Regions from separate parts of the Homo sapiens genome. Here region 1 is linked to region 2. The links come from fine-mapping of genetic effects on gene expression. A gene starts in region 2. The other region holds a variant in brackets. All regions are shown on one strand. Distances are between the middles of the regions. Region 1 overlaps RFC1 (replication factor C subunit 1). Region 2 holds the start of RFC1 (replication factor C subunit 1).

Region 1 (8,339 bases), 39 kb after region 2:
CTCTGTTTGTACTGCCATTGTTATGGTTGTTGAGGCCATCTTTGCCTACGTGGTCATTTACTTTTTGTCTTCCCCTTTTCTTGCCCTGTTACAATCTGCTCTCCATAGTAGTTGATCTCACCCACTCAGCTATGGGGTTTTCTGTCATACTGCTTATAAGCACGGCTAAGTGTAGTGGAAATGGAATGTTAGTATTTTAGGCATTTTTAAGGTGGTAGGAAACTAGTAGAGCACCATCATTTCAGAGACAATTTAAGTTTGTTCTTTCTCCATTAAGGGACTCCCTCTTGCCCAGAAGTACAATTGTTGAACTTAAAGCAAATAAACATTATAAAATTTAATAAGATAAGAAATTTAACATATACTGGGTATAGCTGGTCAGCTGTCAAGTATTAAAAAAATTTGAGTTTCTATAATACCATGATCATTGTGTAATTATTTTAGAGAAAAGGAAAGGACTTTGAGATTATATTCTCAATGGTTAGTTACTAGGACTATTATGGGTGATCCACGTGGCTGTTATAAATGGAATGGTGATGTTACCTAGCCTTTTGCAAAGCCTTTTTCCCGTCTGGCAAAGAGGCAGAGAAGAACCAGTAGTTAGGTAGGGAGAATATATATATATGTGTGTGTGTGTGTGTATATATATATATGAATGACTGAACCTAGTCTGTTGACTCTTTGTAACGTGGTTGAACTGAAATCTGTTAATTGTATCAGGCCTTGGATGTGCTTTAGAAAGAGTTATGGATAAATTTTTAATTAAAGCTTGACGGTAGATTGACTATAGTTGAAGAGAAGTGAAACAAGTATGTTTTAATTTAACTCTTTCGGTTGCAAACACTTTAGTGTAAGCAAAATGGGGAAATTTATTAGGAGCCTGCTAACTTATCTCATTGAATGTAGAAATAAACCTTTTGCACCTTGGTTTGTACATACTGGTTGAGCAAATCAAGGATAAAGTTGGCCCCACCTTGCTGAAGTGCTCACTCCTGGTCTAGCTGATTGTGGTCAAGAGTGTGGAGCCATCTAATGGATATATCTGTGGTTTTTGGAGGCCCTTGGAGGGAGGGGTGAGCTGTAAATTATTAGAGAAAATGTGCTTGTAGTGAAGGGCACTGGCATCCTCAGAGATTTCTACTACATGCTTGCTTTAAATAGTGGGTTACTTTTTACATTTAGTAATCAGAAACCTGTAAGAGTGAAGTGTTGCAAAATTTATAGTTTCATTTTAATATAAATATAATAATTAGAAGGTAAGGCTGAATCCTTTTGATTTTTACATATCATTAGATACTTTCATGTTTGAAATGGCAGCCACCTAAGGATAACACAGTGCCTGGGACGTAAGGCCTTTAGCAAATGTTCATAGTTGAATGAGGGAGCAGTTGAGAGGACATAGGAGCCACTCATATGTGGCTTTGCATACCAAATTGATACAGTGAACCGTCCCCCATCCCCACCAAGACCTAGTCTTCATGGTTGTCTTTTATTTAAAAAAAAATTTTTTTTTTGAGAGGGAGTCTCACTCTGTCGCCCAGGCTGGAGTGCAGTGGTGCAATCTCAGCTCACTGTGACCTCCGCCTCCCAGTTCAAGTGATTCTCCTGCCTCAGCTGCCCAAATAGCTGGGATTACAGGCATACTCCACCACGCCCAGCTAATTTTTATGTTTTTAGTAGAGACGGGCTCTCACCATGTTGTCCAAGCTGGTCTTGAACTCCTGACCTCAAATGATCCGCCCATCTCGGCCTCCCGGAGTGCTGGGATTGCAGGTGTGAGCCACTGCACCTGGCCTATTTTCAATTGTATTAAAAAAGTTTTTTTTAGAGACAGGTTGGAGTGCAGTGGTACAATCGAGGCTTACTGCAGCCTCCATTTCTTGGGCTCAAGCGATCCTCCTACTGCCTTAGCCTCCTGAGTAGCTGGGGCTACAGGCCTGCACCACCATGCCCAGCTTAATTTTTCTTTTTCTTTTTTTTTTTTGAGACAGAGTCTTGCTCTGTCTCCCAGGCTGGAGTACAGAGGCACAATTTCAGCTCACTGCACCCTCTGCCTCTGCCTCCGGAGTAGCTGGGACTACAGGCGCGCACCGCTACGCCCGGCTAAGTTTTGTAATTTTAGTAGAGATGGGGTTTCACCATGTTGACCAGGCTGGTCTTGAACTCCTGACCTGAAGTGATCTGCCTGCCTCCCCAGCTAATTTTTTTTGGTAGAGATGGAGTCTCATTATGTTGCCCAGGCTGATCTTGAATTCCCAGGCTCAAGCAATCCTCCGCCTCAGCCTCCCAAAGTACTGGGATGACAGGTGTGTGCTACCGTGCCCGGCCTCATGTTTGTCTCTTAGATTTTCATTTTTATTGGATTTCTTTTGTTTATAGGCCAAATCGAAAAGCTTTTTTTTTTTTTTTTTTTTTTTTTTGTGAGTCACTGAAGCAAACAAATTTATTGAGGCCCTTTTGAGGTACATTTTTGGAGCTCCTAATTATCTAAACGTTGTCATGAATGCTTAAAAAGACATTTAAAGCCAGATGTTTTGTGGAAACTTTTTAGAAAAATAAAATGTAACAAAGAATTTATGGTCTTAAATGAATGGTTAGATATCAGTAGATGGTTCACCTGCAATATATAGCTAGAACCTGACAACTTACTACCTCTGCAAATACCACCACAGTCCAAGCCTTCCGTATCTCATCTGAAACTGCAGTAGCTTTCTAAGTGGTCTCCCTGCATTCACTTTCCCCGCTCTGCAGTGTGTTTTCCAAATGACAGGCCTTAAGTTGGGTCACAAACTATTCTCAGAATTCTCCAGTGGATTCCCGTTCTATAATAAAGACTAAAATTATTCCTATTGCCTAGAAAGTCCTCCAGGATTTGGCCCCTACCTCTTTCACCCGAACTCTTCTGGCACGCCTCCGCATTGTGCTGCAGCCACATTGAACTCCAGGCACACTTCCGTCTCGGCTTTTCCATTTGTAGTTTTAATTGCCCAGATATTCTTGCCTGAGGTATCTTCATTTCAGGCCTCCGTTAAAATGTTGTTTATCAAAGAGGCATTCCCTCACTACCTTATCTCAAAGAGTACCCTTCATCACTCTTTAATTCTTTCACCCTGTTTTACTTTTTATTCATAGAACATTTAACTTGACAGTGTATATTTGTTTATTTGTATATCTGTTTCCTCTTCTAGACTTTAAGTTCCATGAGGGCAGGGATTTTGTCTTTTTTATTCACTGCTGTATCTTAAGTTCCTGGTACATAATGAGTGCTCAGTAAATATTTGTGTACTCTTGGTAGTAACTGGGGGATATAGCGTATTACAGGCCTGGCACTGGTAAATGTGGGGATGATGGTTGAATTTTGGAGATAGGGGGAAAAAGTTATTAGCATCTCTAAGTTCTTGGATGTTTATTTTGTTTTTGAGACAGGGTCTTTGTTGTTCAGACTGGAGTGCAGTGGTGCAATCACAGCTAACTGCAGCCTCAACCTCCTGGGTTTATATCCTCTTGCCTCAGCCTCCCTAGTAGCTGGGACTACAGGTGTGTACCACCATGCCTGGCTAATTTTTTGTTAATTTTTTTGAAGAGAAGGAGTTTCATGATGTTGCCCAGACTGGTCTCGAACTCCTGAGCGCAAATGATTCTCCTATCTTGGTCTCCAAAAGTGCTGGGATTACAAGCATGAGCCACCATGTCTAGCCTCTTGTATACTTTTTATAAAGTTGGTAGAAGTGTTTTCTTTGTATAACCGAATTGATGTTTTATAAAAAATATTTGGTTACATTTCATTTAAGATGAAGAAGATGACTTTATGTGTAAGAAGGCGGCCTCTAAATCAAAAGAGAATGGAAGATCTACAAATAGTCATCTTGGAACATCAAACATGAAAAAGAATGAAGAAAACACTAAGACCAAGAATAAGCCTTTATCACCAATAAAACTTACACCCACATCAGTACTTGATTATTTTGGAACTGGAAGTGTCCAAAGATCTAATAAGAAGATGGTGGCAAGCAAAAGAAAAGAGGTAAGTGTTCTACATATAAGCAAGTATGCTCAGGATTTATACCCATTCACTAATATTAACAGGAGAAACTAGGATGTAGTAAATAGGCAACATGTTTTAATAATTAAAATAATTTTCCTATGATTATGGATAAAATGTATTGCCCTCATTTTAAAGGATGAGGAAGTTGGAATGTTACATATTTAATTTTTTAATTCTTGAAAGCGGGAAAAGATCATTTAAGCCATAAGAAAAAATGATAATTATTCGAATTTAAATTGAGTTCTCAGAATGGAAACTCATTTTACTATTGACCTCAACCAGTCAATATTAGCGATAAATTTGTTTCCAAATGAGATAATAAATAGATTCCTTATAAATAGAGCATACCTATGCTACACTTGTGACCTTCTCTACTTTGGCAGATATTGGATTCATCTGTTTCTGGCCATTTAGGAAACAGACATACCAGATAAATTATGGTGAAAGTAGTCCCCTGAGTTAAAGAAAGCCTGCCCCATAGTGTGTGTTTGTTGATTCTATCACTTCCTCCATAGAACAATGTAATCATTCTCACATATTGGTTTGCCAATGTTCTGGGCTACTTGTCAAGCCAAGACATTAATCTACAGGATTGGGTTTTTTTATTTTTATTTTTGGTACTTCTCTTGAACATATCAATAGAACTAAGTGAGACAGGTCTGTCTATAGGATATTTATTAGGGATTGGATATGGTCAGGGAGTAGCCATAAATTTGACTTTCTGGCTGGTGTACATTGCAGCTGTTACTGATAGATACACTTATCTCTCACTGGTGTATTTA[A/C]TCAGCAACAGTCAAGAAAAAGTGCCTTATTTTTAACTTAAGGTTTATGCTGATTTTGCTTGATTTTCTTTGAAATATAGCTTTCACAAAATACAGATGAGTCTGGATTAAATGATGAAGCCATCGCCAAGCAATTACAGCTTGATGAAGATGCGGAGGTATTGGCATTTTGCTTAGAATCATTAGTAACTTGATATTCTGACTAGCTATTTAGTCCAGCCAGGTTTTGAATTGAACCTCATTGGAAGTTACATGTAAAATAAGTTAAAATCTAATAAATGAAAATCTAAATTTCTATACAAGATAAATGATGAGACCAGGGGAGAATTATTTACTGAAAGATTTATTTTTAGAGAAGATTGATCAAGTGCTGTGAGATGATTTTGAAGAAATGGCTAGCAGCAAATCCTGTAGGTCATGATAGGTCTTTGATACCTACAAAAAGGATGTTAATTATAAGGACTTTGGAATTTAGTTTCTTCCAAATGGGAAACCATTGGAGTTTTTATTTTTTATTTTTTGAGACAGAGTCTCGCTTTGTTGCCCAGGCTGGAGTGCAGTGGCATAATCTGGCTAATTGCAACCTCCACCTCCTGGGAATCAAGTGATTCTCCTGCCTCACCTGCCCCAGTAACTGAGACTACAGGCGCCCACCACTACGCCTGGCTAATTTATGTATTTTTAGTAGAGACGGAGTTTCACCATGTTGGCCAGGCTGGTCTTGACCTTGGCCTCCCAAATTGTTGGGATTACAGGTGTGAGCCACCACACCCAGCCCCATTGGAGTTTTGAATAGAAAAGTGACATGACTTGGTGGATCTTAAAAGAAAATTACTTTGGCTTCGATGATGTTAATAGTTCATGGTGGGGGCAAGATCAAAAGCAGATCAGTTTGCAGACTGAATGGTAGGTGAGAGATGTCAGCTTGTAATAGGAAAAGGCAGTGAGAAGTGGGCATAATCTGAATGTGCCTTGAAACATGCAAGTTCTTTTTGACAGATTGGATGTAAGGTGTGAGGGAAGAAGATTCACAGATGAGGCTGGGTGTGGTGGCTCATGCCTGTAATCCCAGCACTTTGGGAGGCCGAGGTGAGAGGATCACTTGTGCCTGGGAGTTTGAGACCAGTCTGGGTAACATAGGGAAATCCCATCTCTACCAAAAATACAAAAATCAACTGGGCATGGTGGTGCACACCTGTGGTCCCAGATACTTGGGAGGCAGAGGTGGGAGGATTGCTTGAGCCTGGGAGGTTCAGGCTGCAATGAGCTGTGATTGTGCCACTGCACTCCAGCCTGGGTGACAGAGCAATACCTTGTCTCTCGGAAAATAATATTCAGTTATGGCCTTAACAACTGGGTGAATGGTGATACGATTTACTAAGGCTGGAACACAGGAAGCAGAACAGGTTTGGTACAGAGAGATCTTTTGGACAAGTTAAGTTTGAGATGTCTAATAGACTTCCAAATGGAAAGGCAGAGTAGGTGGTTGGGTAGAAGAGTCAGGAACTCAGGGGAGAAGTCTAAACTGAAGATGGACATTTGGAAATCATTACCAGTTGAGTAATATTTAAACCTGTGTAACTGGATGAGATCATGGGGAGATAATGCAAATAGAAAAGAAAGAAAGGTCTCAGGATTGAGCCCTGGGCCACTGTTAGAGGTCAGGAAAAGGAGGATGATCCAGCAAAGGAGAGGAGAGAGTGGCTAGTGAAGTAGGAACATCAGGAGAGGTTGATATCTTACAGAAGCCAAAGAAAGTATTTCAGGGAGGAGCGCTCATCTCTGTCAGAGGTTCCAGGCTTAGCTGCCGGCTGTTAGAACTCCCTTCCTCTTGCTTAGCTTAAGTGTCACTTTCCCAGACTACCTCAACTATATTAGAAACCCCTCCGATATACTCTGTCACACTCTGTCATAGCTACTATTATCATTTATTATACTTGCTATTTAATTAGAATGGCAAGTATAGGCTCTAAGGTCCCCTCACCAGGACTCTCACTCAACCATTTGTCTCAACCATTTATGTCTCACTCAACCATTGTTACATCAGTGCTTATCTTAGTGTCTGGCATACAATGGGCTCTTGATAAGTATTATTGTGAGAGAACAATATTGTGATTGTTCACATTTTATTACTTTGGCAGTTTAGTTTGTGTTTTCAAAATGTTTTTCTATCTTATTTGATCACACTGAATTACATAAACTACAAGCGAGTATCCACATGACTCAAGGTAGCACAAGTAGCCTAGGTCAAACTAGGAAGTAATTTTTAGGAACCTGACTTCTCCTGATCCAAATACTAGAGGGTTACCTAATCCTTTCCAAACCAGGTGTGGTACTTTGTATCACAATCCTCTATTTTTCCATTTTTATCACATTCTTTCAGAATCTTGTTTGGGTAATTTATTAATCTGATTAAGGACTTCTAGGTGTCAGTAACTGAAGATGTCTTTACTAATTATCCCTGTAAGAGTTTTTCCTCCCTTTTTTTTCACTTCACTTTTAAAAGATTGAGTGGATTTTGAAGTCCTTTTCTTTGTTTGAATAATGTAGGGTGTTTTTTATTGAATATCACGTAAGGCCATTTTACCAGGGAGCATACAGCCATTTGGTTTATAATGAGAAAGATACTCCACTGCTATATATTCTCTTTTGGAAGAGCTCCATTTTGCTGAATGTGAAAGTATTTTGAAATAACTGAGATAACTAGAATGTCTCTGTGTTACATTAGCATGTTAGTAGAACTCCTGACATGATGACTTAAATTTTCAAAAGTGAGAACAGATGCATTTGAATTAGTAATTGAAAATAGGAGTTTGATAGTAAAAGTGATTTTACATTTGTATATAGCTTACTATATGTGCCAAAAAAATACTGTATAATTTTTTTAAATTCTTAGATTCACTATTTTTGTACTCCCCAGATGATTGTGTTTTCCTATTAGGTTGAGATTCCTTTCAGAGGTCTTTTTAGATAATAAATAGAAATAAGAAAGCTGTGTTGCATAAGAACCATTAAGAGAAAAGTACAGACCTCATGTTTTATAAGTAAGAAATATGACTTTAAAAATATGCTCACTTTATCTGTCATCCCTGCAAAACCAGAACTGTATGTTCCAAAATCTGATTCAGCTTAGTGAAACAAACCTGTGATACTTCACTATTAATGTTGAGTGGGAAAATGTCATAATTATTTTCTGGAAAATGTTTTTCTAGTTTCTTCTAAATATATGAATCAGACATTTAAAAATTCTATTTACGAAAAGAAAAAGAGCAACTCAACTCACTTTGCTGACACATTTTACAGCTGGAGAGGCAGTTGCATGAAGATGAAGAGTTTGCCAGAACATTAGCCATGTTGGATGAAGAACCCAAGACCAAAAAGGTGGCATAATGTTGGGCTATTTGCGTTCTGAATATACAGTACAGATCAGTGTTCATACTTGCGTGTTCTAGGCTCTAGCCAAAACATGAATAACTTTTCCAGAAAGAAATTAAATTATTTTATAAAAATGT
Region 2 (8,339 bases):
AGGCCTCATAATCATAGTGTAAGGCAAGGAGGAGCAAGTCACATCTTATGTGGATGGCAGCAGGCAAAGAGAGAGCTTGTGCAGAGAAACTCCCGTTTTTAAAACCATCAGATCTCATGAGACCCATTCACTATCATGAGAACAGCATAGGAAAGATGCACCATCATGATTCAATTATCTCCTATCCCACTGGGTCCCTCCCACAACAATGGGAATTATGGGAGCTAGAAGATGAGTTTTGGGTGGGGACACAGAGCCAAACCATATCAGTATATAAGACTGGGCCAGGTGCAGTGGCTCACACCTGTAATCCTACCACTTTGGGAGGCCGAGGTGGGTGGATCATTTGAGGTCAGGAGTTAGAGACCAGCTTGACCAACATGATGAAACCCTGTCTTTACTAAAAGTACAAAAATTAGCCAGGCATGGTGGTGGATGCCTGTAATCCCAGCTACTTGGAAGGCTGAAGCAGGAGAATTGCTTGAACCTGGCAGGCAGAGGTTGCAGTGAGCTGAGATTTCGCCAATGTATCCCAGCCTGGGTGACAGAGCAAGCCTCCATCTCAAAAAAAAAAAAAAAAAAAAGTATACAAGACTGATCTGTAGTGTTGTATGATGTATGATCTGTATTTCATTGATTTTTATTGTTGTATGAATATATTTCAATTTATCCATTTTCTTTACAGTTAACATTCAGATTGTTTACAGTGGTTTTTGTTTTGTTTTGTTTTTGGGACAGCATCTTGCTCTGTCGCCCAGGCTGGTCTTGAACTCCTGGCCTCGAACTCCTGGTCTCAAGCAATACTCCTTCCTTGTCCTCCCAAAGTGTTGGGATTACAGGCATGAGCCACTGTGCCTGGCCTTCTGCGGTTTTTTGATTATTCTCTGCTTTGTGGTATACAGATATTGCTGAAAATGTCGAAAAGGCCTGCAGATACCCCTTTGGGTAACAGTGATAAGAAAAAGAGGAAGCATTTATGTTTATCTGTGGCACAGAAAGTCAACCTTAGAGAAGTTGGACAGCAGTATAAGTGTGAAAATCTTACAAAAGAGTATGGGATTGGAATGACCACCATATATGATTTGAAGAAACAGAAGGAAAAACTGTTGAAGGTTTATGCTGAAAGTGATGAACAGAAGTTAATGAAAAGTAAAAAAACAAAACCAAAAAAACCCTCCCAGCACTTTGGGAGGCCGAGATGGGTAGATCACGAGGTCAGGAGTTCGAGACCAGCCTCACCAAGATGGTGAAACCCCGTCTCTACTAAGAATACAAAAAATAGCCAAATGTGGTGGTGCACAACTGTAATCTCAGCTACTCAGGAGGCTGAGGCAGAAGAATCGCTTGAACCTGGGAGGCGGAGGTTGCAGTGAGCCGAGATGGCGCCACTGCACTCCAGCCTGGGTGACAGAGCAAGACTCCGTCTCAAAAACAAAAAACAAAACAACCCCCCCCCCAAAAAAAACTACGTAAAGCTAAAAAAGAAAATCTCAATCATGTATTGAAAGCATAAATTCATAAGCATCATAGTGAACACATGCCACGTGATGGTATGCTGATCATGAAACAAAGATCTATTGCAATGAACTAAAAATTGAAGGGAATTGTGCATATTCAACTGGCTGGTTGCATAAATTTAAGAAAAGACAGGGTGTTACATTTTTAAAAAATCTGTGGCAATAAAGCATCTGCTGATCACAAAGCAGTGGAGAAATGTGTTGATGAATTTGCCAATATTTTCACTCATGAAAATCTGACACTAGACCAAGTCTACAAGATTGCTGAAACATCACTGTTTTGGTGTTATTTGCCCCAGATAGATACTAACTATGGCTGATGAGCTAGCCCATAAAGGAATTAAGGATGGGAAGGATGGAATAACAGTGCCGGCATGTGCTAATGCAGCAGGCATCCATAAATGTAAACTTGCTGTGATAGGCAAAAGCTTATATCCATACTGTTTTCAAGGAGTGAATTTCTTTCCATGCCATTATTCTGCTAACAAAAAGGCATGGATCAGCAGGGAAATCTTTTCTGATTGGTTTCACTTTTTTTTTGTTTTTGTTTTTTTTTCCTGAGACAAGGCCTCTCAAAGTGCTGGGATTATAGGCATGTGCCACCATGCTCAGTCCTATTTTGGGTCTTCAAAAATATTTCCATTCTGGATATCTATTCCTTTATAAGAAACCACTCCAATACTTATTACCTTAACAGAGCAATCATTTAATTATGTTCACGCTACTGTGGGTCAGGAAATTTGGACAGGCCTTGACTGAGTGATTTTTCTGCTCTCCCAGGTGTTGAATGGGGTCAACAAAGCTAGTGAAATTCCATCAGTTGCTGGATGGGATCTGAGATGGCTTCATTTACATGCATGGTGCCTGGTGGAGATGGCTATAAGGCTGGTCTCAGATGACCACCTCCCTGGCTTTACATGGTGCTCCAAGAGAGCAAGACAGGAGCTGCCAGTCTTCTTAAAGCTTAGGTCTGGAGTTGGCATAGTATCACTTCCATTGTATTCTTTGATCAAATCAGTCATAGGCCAGTCCAGGTTCAAGGGAGGAGTTTCAAAGCATATGCAGTCATTTTAGATCTGGTATATTTCTGAGATAGAGTATTTTCATGTAAATAAATATTCCTAAAGAAAACAATCTCACAAAGAAGTTACAGTCTCCTGACTTAAGTCTCATTTAAACTCAAGGAAGGCTTCAAATGCCAAAAAAAAAAAAAAGCAAAAGTTAAGAGGAATGTAATATAAAAGACACGTACAACTTTTTATGTCTTATTTACTCATTTATTGATTTATAACACAATGAACATTATAAATTGGTGTAGGTCCTCTAAAATTATGGGCAAAAATTTGTGTGATATGTCTGCTAAGACAAAACCGAGGCACAGTAACTTGCCCTTGGTCACATAAATAGCAGGTGGTGGGGCTGGAGACCTAGCATCCTGGCTTCAGAGGGAACAGTGCAGTGAGGCCCTGTTAATAAGTAACAGTCTGTCTGTAAATTCGGGATAAGAGTAGTCAGTGTCATCATGGGGATAAAATGAGCTAGGCTAGTCCAGAGCTGCACGTACAACAATAGGCGTTTAATAAATACAAGCTGTCAATGCTCAGCCTCTGTTGTATTCCAGGCTGTTCTATCTTTCGCCATAGAAATGTTGGTGTCATAAAGCGCAAGACCCAACAGGGGGTGGATGGGTGAGAATTTCAAAAGTGTAGCTAGAGCCAAAGCTGGAGATACTGCTTTCTCCATTGAACTCTTTATGGTCTAATCTTTCTCTTGAAATCGTACGCAAATGTTTCATTGTATTCCGTGATTCAATTGCTAATCTATTCATATACAACTGGTTTACCCCAAAGCTTTCGGTATCTTTTCTTTTTTTTGAGGCGGAGTTTCGCTCTGTCGCCCAGGCTAAAGGGCAGTAGCTCGATCTCGGCTCACTGCACCACTGCCTCCTGGGTTCAAGCAATTCTCCTGTCTCAGTCTCCCGAGTAGCTGGGACTACAGGCACACGTCACCACCCCCTGGCTAATTTTTGTATTTTTAGTAGAGACGGGGTTTCACCACATTGGTCAGGTGGTCTCGAACTCCTGACCTCAGGTGACCCACCCGCCTCGGCCTCCCAAAGTGCTGGGATTAGAGGGGTGAGCCACCGCGTCCGGCCTCTTGATGAAACCTTATTACAGAATAGATATTTATACATAATATGTAAAACGCACAGCTAAAACATTTATCTTACTAAAGTTGGTAGTAAAAACTTTTCAAAGTTACTATAGGGAAGTGCATTGTCCAGACGTGTAACCGGGAGGTACTTGGGTACCCCGCCTGCCAAGGAAACCAATATCGGATCCCCCTACTTTAGCGCCCCCGCCAAAAACCGAGCTCACACCAAAGCACCGTGGTTCCTCTCGATGTCAGCGGCCCGCCTGCCCTCGGGGCAGCACCTGGGCAGGCGTCGCACCTCCCGCCTCTGGGCGGGACGGAAGCAAAGCTCGCGCCTCCTGACGTCATCACCGCGCGCCACTGTCTTCGCCTTCTTGCACTTCGCGGGAGAAGTTGTTGGCGCGAATGGATCCTGAGCCTCGATAACAGATTCCTCAACCGGCCCACCCGCCAGCCAGCCAGCGCCTTCATCCTGGGGCTGCGATGGTGAGCCGCTGGGGGAGGCCGTGCGGCTCGGGGTCTGGGGGGGCTTTGCAGGCCTGGTGTGGACCGGGCACTCCTGGTATGCAGGGTGGGGGAGGATGGCGGTGGGTGGTTCCGGAGGCTAGCAAAGGCAGAGAAGGGGCCGCACACCGGGCACTGGACGCAAAACTTTCATTGCATCGCGGGCTCTGGCTCTGGGCGGCAGCCAGCGCGCAGGGATTTTGTTGCTACGTGTACTTGCACTTTCCCCCCGCCCCCCACTCTTGGGGGAAGGGAGAAAGGAAGAGAGGAAGGATGGTGGTTTTGGGACGCATTGGTAAAGTTATTTTCTTGTTCGGCGTTGCCCGAACCTCAGTTTGAGTACTGCCTAAAGCGTGGATTTCAAGCTTTGGGTCACGAGGGAGAAGAATGTAACAAACTTTTCTTTCTTAGGGAATATGTTGTGTAGGGCCTTAAACTTTTATCATTAACAGCTCAGCTCGTCTCATCTCCGCTCGTCATTAACGATCACCTGAGCGGTGTTGAGACCGAGGGCATGGAGAGGATATTTTATTTTGTTTAGATGAGTTCATAGGAGTCAAAAGGATAACATGGCTTACTAGGAAAAAGAAGTACAGCGAATAGAAACAGATGCAAGACATTTGACAGCTGTCATCCTCTTACCACCTGATGTTTAAAATCTGAAAAAAACCCAAGCCTCACTGCATAATTCTGGATAAAATGTTCAAACAAATTGAAAGTGAAATGATTATGCAGCCAGCAAAGCAGACATTCCTGATGGTATGGCAATGGATATGGCTCTGTGTTTGAAATATTTTTAAAGGACCATTTAAAATGTTCATTAAGCTAGAAGATACTTAACAATCCGATATAATTTTTTTCAATCATTGGTCAACGTGTCACAGTGACAACATTCTGGGGGGGGGCGGTGAAAATTTTATGCCACACTGGGAAACGTTGCAGGCCTTTGTGTTTCTTCTCAAAAAAGGGCAACAGTAATGATAGTAGCTACCTTGTACCAAGCATCTTCTTTAGGTCAATATGTGAACTGTTGGTTTTCCATGGTTTTTTTTTTTTTTTTTTTTTTTCATTTCAACCCACATCGATGCAGTTTTACAGATGGTGCAAGCACCTTTTTGGAATTTAAACAGTGTATCATATAACTAGTAGGTGGTTGAACTAGAATTAGAATCTTGGTGTTTCTGACCACCATGTTATACTACTTCCCTATAATGATCATCATTACATTTTGGAGGCCAAAGCACTGTGGTATTTTGGAAGCTTGAGACTTGGAGTCTTGAAGATGAAGAACGTGGTAATATTTTAGTTTAATGGTTTATATATTAATTTATAGTTATATTACTATGTTAGTATAGTCTAGTTTAATAGTTACGTGGTCTTGGGCAAGTAAATAGCTTAAGTTTAATCTCTTTAAGCCTCTGTTTCCTTATCTGTAAAAGAGGGGAAAATAATAGCTGCCATAGTGATTGTTTTGGGGATTAAGCAAGATGTATAGGTAAAGCTTCCGTTCTGGTTCTGGTGCCTGGCATGTTAGGCAACTACACAGCTACCAGTGATCTATTTTCTCAGAAAGGACTCTATGGAAAGTTACATAGATTTTAAGAGGCATGGTAGATTCCTCTGTCATTTATGGTGAACATAGCTTGTGTGGTCAACTTTTGATCATTCAGGTGCTTTTACTTTTGGTTCTTTTCTTTCTTTAGTACTCCTGTTCATGGTGCAGATAAAAAATAGACCTCTTCTCAGAAAAGAAATAGGTCAAATTGGTCAGTTTTGTTGTTAGTGGGTAAACATCCTATGAGGTAGATAAGAATTTTGTATTATACTGATATTTAATTTAGCCCTCCAGTCTCTAGTGCAACAATTAGCAAAACCCTAGACTAAAATTGATTCAACAAATGTTTATTGAACACTTGTGCAAAGTTATAAGACAGTAGTTCTTTTTTTTTTTTTTCCCTCAGACTGTGTCGTTGGGTATGAAGGACAGTAGTTCTCAATCTTTGTTTCAGTTACAGTTTCCTTTGATAAATACAGTGAATGATATGCAAATTTTCTGCCCAGAGAAATGCATATGGGCATATACACACCATTTTAAGGGATTGACCTATCTTCTTCTTCTTTTTTTTTTTTTTTTTTTTTTAAAGGCAAGGTCTTGCTCTGTTGCCCAGGCTGGAGTGCAGTGGTGTGATGATAGCTCACTGCCATCTCTAATTCCGGGGTACAAGCGATCCTTCCACCCTGGCCTCCCAAAGCATTGAGATTACAGGCATGAGCCACTGTGCCTGGCCTGTTCACTTATCATCTTCTTCTTCTTCTTCTTTTTTTTTTTTTTTTGAGAGTCTTGCTGTTTTGCCCAGGCTGGAGTGCAGTGTGCAGTCTTGGCTCACTGCAACCTCTGCCTACCAGGTTTAAGCGATTCTTGTGCCTCAGCCTGCCTGGTAGCTGGGAATACAGGTGTGTGCCACCATGTCCAGCTATTTTATTTTTTTATTTTTAGTAGAGATGAAGTTTCACCATGTTGGCCAGGCTGGTCTTGAACTCCTGGCCTCAAGTTGATCCACCTGCCTCAGCCTCTTAAAGTGCCGGGATTACAGGCATGAACCACTGTGCCTGGCCTATTCACTTATCTTCTGAAGCCCATCCATAGACAGCTCTTGCCCTGGGAGCTGCATTGAAAACAAAAATTCCAATTAAAAGTTATCAATAAAGAAATAAAGTACGTGTATTCACACAATGGAATACTGTGCAACCTTTATAAAAATGAGAAAACTTTATACTCTGATATGAAACAATTGCCAAAATATAAAATTTCTCTGGAAAGATACAGAAGGAACCAACTGATAACATTTGTTGCCTCCAGAGATGGGAAATATGTGTCTGAGAGGCAGGATAAGAGGGGGACTTTTTACCCTTTCGAAATTTGAACCACGTAAATAAATAGAAAGAAAATTAAAAATAAAAGAAATAAAGAAGCCATGTAGACAATTTGAATTTCACTGAGATTTAATTGTTTGCACAAAACGTGAATAAAACCTGAGAGATGCCATTTTTAAGAAGTCAGCATATATAATTAATTGGTTGGTATAATTATTGAAAATATGCATAAGATTGAATTAAACACACATGAGACTTAAGGAACAGCTGTTTGAAGAGCCGTGAGGTCAGTTTAAATAAATTGTGGTCTGAACTGTTTCATTGCTCCACTCCTACAGGCAGGCAACTTTCACATCATGGTTTACTATGTGGAATGCTCTCCCTGGAGCAGTGCTCGACTTTATTATAATATAGCTTTTGCCAAATAATATGCTTTTGCCATGCATATGTACCTGAACTTGGCCTCTAAGGCCCCTACCTACCTCTCTGATTTTCTCTCTCTGTCTTTTGAGTGTGTTAGGTTGGTTCTGTTTCTCTCCGGGCTTTTGTTGCTATTTTCTTTCTTTGAAATAGTCTTCCTCCACATCCTTGCATGTCTGTCTTTTTTTCATCATTTAAGTTTCTCTTGCTAATCCAAGGTCATGAAGATTTATGCTTAAGAGCTTTGTAGTTTTAGCTCTTACATTTAGGACTTTTATCCATTTCTGAGTTAATTTTTATATAGGGTGTGAAGTATAGAGGTCCAATTTTATTCTTTTATATGTGGACATCTAGTTGTCCCAGAACCATTTTTTGAAAAGACTCTTCTTTCTCCATTGAATTATCTTGGCACCCTTGTCAAAAATCAGTTGACTGTAAATGCGAGAGTTGATTTCTAAACTCCCAGTTCTGTTCCATTGATCTATATATCTATCTAAATGCCAGCAACACACTGTGTTACCGTGGCTTTGTCATAATTTTTGAAGTCAGGAAGTATGTCCTCCACCTTTGTTCTTTTTCAAGATTGTCTTGGCTATTCCATTTCCTTGAATTTCTATATGAATTTTAGAATCAGCAAAGATGCCACATGGAATTTTGATAGGGAATTTATTGAATCTGTAGGTCAATTTAGGGAATATTGCCATCTTAACAATATTACATCTTCCGATCCATGAATGTGGGATGCCTTCATTTGTTTAGGTCTTCAGTTTGTTTAAATAGTATTTTGTAGTTTTTCACAGTGTGAGTTTTACACTTCATTTGTTAAATATATTCGTAAGTATTTTATTCTTTTTGGTGATTTTTTTAATG

Evidence for each region. PIP is the estimated chance that this variant, and not a neighbour inherited with it, causes the effect.
Region 1: its variant is fine-mapped to the expression of RFC1 in whole blood (INTERVAL, PIP 0.94).

The regions. Positions count from the first base shown.
Region 1 is chr4:39,323,209-39,331,547 of GRCh38, reverse strand. RFC1 (replication factor C subunit 1) reads left to right here. Exons shown (of 25, transcript NM_002913.5): 5 at 3,792-4,024; 6 at 4,908-4,985; 7 at 8,131-8,208. Among named protein-coding and RNA genes, the nearest start is that of RFC1, 39 kb to the left of the region's middle. The variant A/C (reference allele first, on the strand shown) is at 4,828.
Region 2 is chr4:39,362,057-39,370,395 of GRCh38, reverse strand. It overlaps RFC1 (replication factor C subunit 1), which reads left to right and starts at 4,034. Exons shown (of 25, transcript NM_002913.5): 1 at 4,034-4,157. The coding sequence starts at 4,155. RefSeq lists an enhancer at 3,993-4,112.